Regions from separate parts of the Homo sapiens genome. Here region 2 is linked to region 1. The links come from fine-mapping of genetic effects on gene expression. A gene starts in region 1. The other region holds a variant in brackets. All regions are shown on one strand. Distances are between the middles of the regions. Region 1 holds the start of LINC01361 (long intergenic non-protein coding RNA 1361). Region 2 overlaps LOC107985043.

Evidence for each region. PIP is the estimated chance that this variant, and not a neighbour inherited with it, causes the effect. A credible set is the group of variants that fine-mapping cannot tell apart.
Region 2: its variant is the best candidate, but not a certain one, in a credible set for the expression of LINC01361 in B cells (Schmiedel 2018, PIP 0.64).

The regions. Positions count from the first base shown.
Region 1 is chr1:82,984,521-82,988,924 of GRCh38, forward strand. LINC01361 (long intergenic non-protein coding RNA 1361) reads right to left here and starts at 1,688. Exons shown (of 3, transcript NR_110633.1): 1 at 1,629-1,688. The region is part of intron 2 of LINC01362 (long intergenic non-protein coding RNA 1362); the gene reads left to right.
Region 2 is chr1:83,556,788-83,561,191 of GRCh38, forward strand. All of the region lies in intron 2 of LOC107985043, which reads left to right. Among named protein-coding and RNA genes, the nearest start is that of LINC01712, 110 kb to the left of the region's middle. The variant A/C (reference allele first, on the strand shown) is at 2,235.

The sequences.
Region 1 (4,404 bases):
ATATGGTACCTATGCACAACAATGGACTAGGTGCTATACATAATCTCATTTAATATTCACAATTGTTGCATGGAATAGAAACTATTTTACCATACCCCACCCTCCCTTTTACCGATGAGAAAATGCTAAATGAGTTGATCTAGGCTGCACAAAGAGCAAGAATTACCAAGAATGTTCAAACCACAATTTATCTGACTCCAAAGCTCATCTATTTAATCTGTGCCTATCTACTTTATAGAATAATTCTAAAAGGATGCAAGTCTTTAACTTCTTTCTTTCAGAGAAGGTATGCCTTTGTGGTATGCATTGAATATTGAGTACCCTAAGGGAAGAGTGTACCATAAGCCTTTCGTGTCTTCTCAGCCTCATCTCTTCCACCAGTCAGCTGCACCATATAGTCTGTCGTAGGTTCTGGCCAAGCTCACACAGGTGAACCTGACAGTGTCCTTCTTAGGTTCCACAGGGACTCCCTGATGCTGCTGCATGGCACGTCTGTGCCAGTCACACAACTTGGTAGTGTGGGGAAGTTCACGTCCATTAGGTCACGCTTGACAATAGGAGAGCCGGAGCCCACGGAAAAAAAAAAAATCATTTCCATTTTATCTTCCAGGTGAACAATTCTGAAATACATTTCATAAGCCTCCTTAGAAAGTCTGGCAGGATGGAACACCATTTGCCTATAGTGGTGGCCGATGCATTCATTTTTGGTTTGGCTTTCCCTCCTGCGTTTCATTCTCTCTCATTCCTGTCCCTTGGGTTCCTGTCCCTAATGGTCTGCATGCAAGCTCTTTTTCTAGGTTATGCATTCAGAGTACTTCAAGCTAAGACACAGGTAATTTGTTTTATTAATTATTATATGCCCATCTTCTAGTAATGTATCTGACAGAGTATATATATAATCAATGATGATAAAACTGAAATTTTTTCTTATATTTTTACATTGCCTAAAATGTGCTTGGGGTAAAGGGAGTTAAGAAATTGTTATTTTTTTCACATTTGAGAAACTGTAATGATGCTTAGTTGTTGCCATGGATGTGTTGCCTTGGAAGCTGAGGAATTGGACAGGGTTGAATCCATTCTGGTCATTTCTAGGGGTGTTAAATGGGCACACACATCCAGAAAAAGTAACTTCTAATTCCCTTGATGCCAAGATCAATGTAATCAGTGCTATTATTTTCTAATTGTAAAAGCCATATTCCTATTACTGAAATTTGTAATACAATTTTTATCACTCATTCCTTTTTCCCCCTAGTGCAAAGTGAATACCGTAGTAAATTCCTTGCTTTTTCAGATATGGGTAATTATTTTTAAGCAACAGGATAGCTCATACTCTAAATTGAAATAAGCCCATCTTATTGATTCATATCCAATTTGTCATCAGATAGATATCAGCCTTTAAAAATAGAATCATAACTAGGATTAATTAAAACAATTTAAGAAGGTCTTGTAAGGGAAGCCAAACAGTGAAAAACGGTTGAAATTGAACCCCTTCTCTCTGTTACTTTCTGATCAATGTTTTCAACGCCCGTGGGCTTTCTGGCAATAAGTGTTCTGGTGTCAAGGATTACAACTGGGATCCCTTCAAGAGCAATAAATTCACTTAAAATATATAAATATGTTTCACTTACCACTGACCTGGAGGTGAAAAGTTCTATATCAAATTACTCACAGCCTGAGATACCCATTCTCCTATTCTGATTCTAATTAAAAAGGGCTGAGAAACAAGCTATGTAAGAAAGTTCATTTATAGTACAGTAAAAAAGTAAGGAAGATTTACTAAGTGTTACTTGCCACACAAAGCTGCAACTACAGCAAACCAGGAGGAAAGGAGACTTCAATGTTTCTTCCAAATAGAACATGCTTTTCCAATTAAAAAAAAAATTCACCACCATAATCCAAGAACTTGTCACTTCATGTCGATCTTTTGTGAAAGCTTTCTAATTGGATTCCCTGAGTCTTGGAGTTTCCTTCATGGGTTTTCACACTGCTGGAGTAACCATTATGAACATTGTGATGCACATGATATTCCTATGCCCTCAAATTGGCAGGGATCCACCATTGCCCAGGTTAGATCATTCAAAGTTTTTCGTCGAAGCATTCTAGCTATCTTCCAAACTTCCATCTCACAACTGATATGGCTGCCAGGAGAGGCAAAAACAAATTCTTCACAGGCAGTGAAATGCCTTCTAAGTGCATTGTGGCGTGATGGTCAATCTCATTTCATTTATTTTCCTGGTCTACTGGCAAGTGTGAGGCCAGGAAACATCTTTCATACTGTCTTTTTTACAGACACCAGGCACTCAAACAATCTTTTATTAATTGAATGAGAATTGTATCCCGTTCAATTGGGTATTGTTTAGATGCTGTCCTACATATTTTACCTTTAATATACTGTAGGTTCGATGAACAAACTAAAATATTTCAAATTTAATTACCCTGAGAAACTACAATAATTAGGGACAAATGGAGAAACTGAGGGCTGATTCCGCTCTCACTTAAGGCCACACTTATGATTGTGCGGGTGATACACTTCAAAACTCTAGAAGCCTCAGCTACATTATAGTGGATGTGAATAATGCCCCCTGCCCTCAGAAGGGTTTCAGGCAACACTTGCTGAGCCATACCTGGCAGCCATGCTGACCTTTACTAGCCTTGTAGATTTGGACAAGCTCTTTAACCTCCTAATTTATGAATAGGGGACAGTGTACTTCTTTAAAGGATTGTTGAGGATAAAATTATGTATTATTTCTTCCTAGCATTGTTTACAATTATGAATTTGGTTAGTGTCTAACACTGGAATATGTACCTTTCATGAATGTAGGGAGCATGTCTATTTTTGCTTATCACAAGAGTGCACTTTTTTGTAATGTGCCAGCTGTTGAAAAATATTGGTTAAGGAATGAATAAATGTCAATTAAGTTATGCAGAGTACCTGGCACATAACTGGAGCTAAGTAAATGTTGGTGCCTTCTTATCCCCCTTCTATTGTAATTAAAGATAAAAAATTTCTAGGGAGATATCAACAGCATTAAAATTGTTTACCACTTAAATCTATCTATATGCTTCTTTAGCATTCTAAGAAAATAAGAATATAGGATTAAATATCTCAATGATCAAAACAAGAAGTGCTAAACCTTCAAAGCATTGTCTCTGGAATTGATTAGATCTGATTTTGCGACCATGCTCCTATCGAAGTAACTGAGCAAGTCCGAATTCTTTTGTAATTAATAACACCTGTAGCCATTAGCTACCTTACAAGTTGATGTAAGAATAAATACAACATTTTGCCACTGTGACAGAGGTTTCCAAATGTGGCTTCATAGAACTCCAAGGACTTGAAGCCAAGTAATATAAGCAACAATATCACCAATATTTTATTTTATTTACTTTTTTTATTTTTATATTTATTTATTTATTTATTTAATTTATTTATTTATTTTTTTTTTGAGACAGAGTCTCTCCTGTGGCCCAGGCTGGAGTGCAGTGGTGCAATCTTGGCTCACTGTAAGCTCTGCCTCTTGGGTTCACGCCATTCTCCTGCCTCAGCCTCCTCAGTAGCTGGGACTACAGGCGCCCACCACCACTCCAGGCTAGTTTTTTGTATTTTTTTAGTAGAGTCGGGGTTTCACTGTGTTAGCCAGGATGGTAGGATGGTGTCCATCTCCTGACCTTGTAATCCGCCCACCTTGGCCTCCCAAAGTGCTGGGATTACAGGTGTGAGCCACCGCGCCCGGCCACCAATATTTTTAAAAGGCTTTTATGTTTCCCCACTTTATTAAAAAACAAAGCAAGGCAAAATACAACAGAAAAAACACATGAATAACATGCATTCATATAATTTTTATATATTTCCTCTTCAAAGTTTTTTTCTCCTTCAATCTTTGTTGCTTTTTATTACTTATCTACAATATATAAATTCTGGGATAGTAACTAATGTATGGTAAGATAATATATCTAGTTAATAAAATCAGATATATTGACGTCTCCTTTTACAGCATGATGACCTTAATGCTTTTCCATCACCTGAACAGGTTGAGAAGCATTGCTCTACCAAAATGAACCACGTGTTTATAATTGCAATTACCAATGCCCTTTATTTTGAATATACAACTAGCCAGGTTATTCAGAGAGTAAGCTCATGAAGATTATGATCAGGTTAAAGAGACAAACCATGTAATACACAAGATAAATACCCAACAGTAAAATCAGTGATATTAAATATGCCTGAGCTGCAGGGAATTCTATCAGAATTTAGCAAAATGAGATAGCATGGTAGGGCAGGGTAACCAGGAAAGCTTTGAAGTTTGCTAAGAAGTTAGAAGAGCAAGGGAAGGTAGTTCAGCTGAGGGGAACAGCAAGACCCACCATTTTGAATTATCAAGGATCTTTTCAGCTTCTTAATGT
Region 2 (4,404 bases), 570 kb after region 1:
CAATTATAAGCAGAGTGACTTGGGGCTGCACCTTAGTTTCTCCATCTGTAAAATGGGTTACTTACATTGTAGGCTTATTAGAAGGATTGAGTTAATACTGGTAAATGGCATAGAACAGTGACTTATACATGGTGAGCATTATATGCCTTTTCCTATGTAAATAAAATAACTCCTCCATGTATGGTATTCAGCCCCCCTCTCTGCCTACTCTTCTACTTTTCTGCCTCAACTTCCATCACTTCTGACCACACTTCTCACTCCCTTCACCACATCCAGCCATCCACCACATATTTTTGCATATTATGTTCCTTCCACCCCAAATATCCTTATTATTTTTCCACCTTGGAATATTCTACACAACCGGTTATTTATCACACATGTCTTTACAGTAATGTATATCCCATTATTATATAATTTACTGCCCCCACTAAGCTTAAGAACTTTGAGTTTCAAGAACTACCTTGTGCTCATGTCTACTAACTATATCTAGACTAGTGTGCAAGCATTTATTAAGTATTCAAGAACTGATTGATGTTGGAAAGAAAGAAGGAAAGGAGGGAGGCACAGAAATAAAATAAGAGTTGCTAACAATTTTCTCTGTGCCAGACAAGGTACTAAATTATTTACGTGGCTTAATTCAATTCTAACTACAGCCCTATGAGGTTGATAGCATTATTATCCCCATTTTACCGATAAGAAAAAAAAATGCACAGAGTTGATATTGGTGACTCTTCAAATATCAACCTGACCCTAGCATCTGTGTATATAGACATCTCACAAAGCTGTCTCCCACTGGTCCCAAACATAGCACTCGATCTCCTTCTCTCCAACCAGCAGCCAACACAGACTCCAGGAGAGCCAGGGAGACAGAGTGGGAAAAATGCAGGCTGCCATGCCTGGGTTTGAATCCCAACTCTAAGTCCCTCTAACAGACTTCCCTTAAGCAAGTTACTTAACATCTCTGATGCTGTTTCCTTAACTGTAAAATATGCATAATGGTGCTCGCCTCCCACCAACTAGAATTATCTGAGGACACAGGTAAATAAAAGATGTAGAGCTATAGTTGCAGGACCATAGAAAATGAGGCAGTTATGATTTAGACTAGCTTGGGAAAGAAAGTTAATTCGTTATAATTTCCATTCTTGGTGGTTTTAAAGCACAGCCTTAATACTCTTTTGTAATACACCAGTTTGGTTTGGCTAAGTAAGACACTTCAAAGAATATGTTTTACACATGTTTGAAACAAAGGCATTAAGGAATGTGGCAGGGAGATAGGAATCTCCTGAAAGTGTAAGGAGCAAAGAAAATCTAATTCACCATTAAAGAAAGCACATAACACTTCCATTCATATCGCACAAATAAAATAAAACTCCTTCCAGAATCCAGGCACCAATGACATAGTGGTCCGGAATTTCATCTTAGGATTTGAGAAACAGGGACTTGAACAAGCTGAACAATTCTTTGACATGCATAGGTGTAGAAAACCTAAAGGAAACCTTGAAATCCAGAGGAAGAGTTGGAAGAGGTTCATGTCAATCTTAATTTAAGAAACCTAACCACATTTGTAACTGAAGAAGCCATGAACACACAAAATATGAAATTTTCTAAAATGGAACTTTGTTTGACGGGATTTAACCTTGTCTATTTTTCTTGTGGTCTTCTGACATTTTTGCAGTACATGATCAAAGACCACCCCAAGACTTTTTCTCCCCAAATTTAGAAACGATTATAAGAAGCAACTAATTTATGGCTGTAAAGACCAAGTACATGTTTCATATGGCATAATTAAAACTAGGTCAATGAGAGAAAAGAATGAGAGGCAGAGAGGTTGTCTAAATATTACACTGAAAAATGACAATCTACCTTCAAACAATTCTTCTACCATTTCTCTAGCCATGTCCTCCATTTTTGCATTTAAAGAATATTCAGTTTCCAAGATACCAGGTTTTCCAGCCATCTCCTAGGTTAGTGTGCCAAATGCTACAGATGGAGCTAAATAGATCTGTGGTAATTTACTATTCTCTACAGTCAAAGGGCAAATGTATCTCCTGCCTTTACTGTAGCCCTCTGGAGCATGCTCTGCACTTACTCTCTGGCGTGAGTTCCCTCTGATAACCAGGCAGGGCTCACTGGTAGGGTGCATATGCAGAAAACTCCAGGCTACAGATCAGAGAGGAGAATTCAGTCCAGGCCCAGCTGGGCATTCCAAATTGAGGGGGGAAAAAAGCAAAAAT[A/C]ATATCAACAACTGGGAGAAATGCCCTGATTCTGCAAGTTCAGGGTTTTCAAATCTTCTAGGAATTACATCCATATCTCTGATGTGCTCTGTGGTGGATGAGGCAAGGCAAAGTAGCAACTAAGGGAATAGGGGCCACAAGAAAAAGAAAAATAACTGAAGGAAATCATACAAACGTCTGATTCTGTTCCAGAAAGTCACTCTTGTGAAGCTCACGGGGCATTAAGAAGAATGGTTTGTGTGCTTCGTTTGAGTTGGCTCAGCTGCATGGGGGAAAGAGGAACTAATTGCATAAACTCTACCAAGTGTCTGGTAGCCTGACATGTTTTTCCCCTTGTCCTTCCCACACTCACCCCTTCCTACAGCCACAGTTTCAACCCCCACATCCTCTAATCTCCTTTTAGCTCCTTTCTGGAATGGAGAGTGACATTCATGCTGAATGTGTGACTACCTGGCAACAACATCCAAGCTTCGCTATAATTGATCATCTTCCAGTCAACACTTTGGGCCTTGGGCAAAGCTTGCCTGAGATGTGGCCCTGAATCCTGTCAGAGCAGTGTCACTGCTAACACCTAGGATAGACGCACCACCAGCAGACCGAATTCTCCAGCAGGCCATTTATCAGTTCCAACCATTTCTATAGCTGACAAGCAAAGAAAGACGTTTCTAAGTGACTGATTCAGTTATGCATGTCTTTCAACACTTTCTGTTTTGAATGGTCTGTTTTAGTAGGGTTTGTGGCACTTGATGGCCCTAAAACCACAAATGCCTGAAGTACTTTTCTTTGAAATAATTTAGGCATTTTCTTCCTAGCAAGCTGCAGAAAGTGCAATTACAAAACATGCCTAAGGGATAGATCTTCCTAGGCATATAAAAATAACAATTTCTCCACAAAAAATCATCTTTCCCACACACTCCATCCAGCCTTGGGAAACAGTGCTTCAGGCTGTTGTGATAGGAGGGTCTGAGGGACCTTATTCTTCCCAACTTGCTTACCCACCCTGAGAGTCCCCTCATAATACTTCAATTTGCTTCCTTTCCCCCATTTAGAATCCTTCCTGAGCTCTTAGGATCAAGATGATCCTCAGGATGCGGCTTCAGGAATCCGTGTGATGTGGACTAGGCCTGTCTCTCTCCATTGCCAGTAAGCTCTCCACATGGCTTTATTCCAGGGTCTTAAACTAACCAAGCCTGTCCTGCCACGGAGCCTTCTCACAGGTCATCACCATGCCTGGGCTGAACTTCCCTCCTCCCAACCCCTACCATCTTTGAACTTACCTTGGAGATCAAATAATCACTTTTAGCAGGCCTTTCCTGACTCCAAAATAAAGCAGACTCCTCCCTGAATTCTCCACAGGTAACTCTCTTTCTGCTCCAGTAGCTTTTGTCACACTTTACCTTCTTCCTCCAGAAAGAGACCCCTGAGTACAGGAACTGTGTCTGTTGCATTCGGTGCTGTACTTAGCACTTAGCTCAGTGCATGGCACCAAATAGGCCCTGTATTAGTCTCCTATGGCTTCCATAACAAAATATCATAGTCTGGGTGGCTTCAACAACAAGAACATATTTTCTCAGAGTTCTAGAGGCCAGAAGTCCAAGGTCAAGGTGCCATCAGGGTTGGTTTCTGGCAAGGCCTCTCTTCCTGCCTTGTGACTAGCCTTCTTCCTGAATCCTCCTGTGACCTTACCTCTGAGTATGCATGCAGGGGGAAGCGAGACAGAGAGCTCTCTGCTGTCTCTTTCTTTTCTTAAGAGGCCACCAACCCTATCAGATTAGGACCCCACTCTTTTTTTCTCTTTTTTTTTTTTTGAGACGGAGTCTCGCTCTGTTGCCCAGGCTGGAGTGCGTTGGCGTGATCTCGACTCACTGCAAGCTCCGACTCCCAGGTTCACACCATTCTCCTGCCTCAGCCTCCCAAGTAGGTGGGACTACAGGTGCCCGCCACCACGCCCATCTAACTTTTTGTATTTTTAGTAGAGACGGGGTTTCACTGTGTTAGCCAGGATGGTCTCGATCTCCTGACCTCGTGATCCACCCACCTCGGCCTCCCAAAGTGCTGGGATTACCAAAGAACCCCACTCTTATGACCTTTTTAACCTTAATTACCTCCCAAAAGGCTCTATCTCCAAGTATAGTCACATTGGGGTTAGAGCTTTAACATATGAATTTGG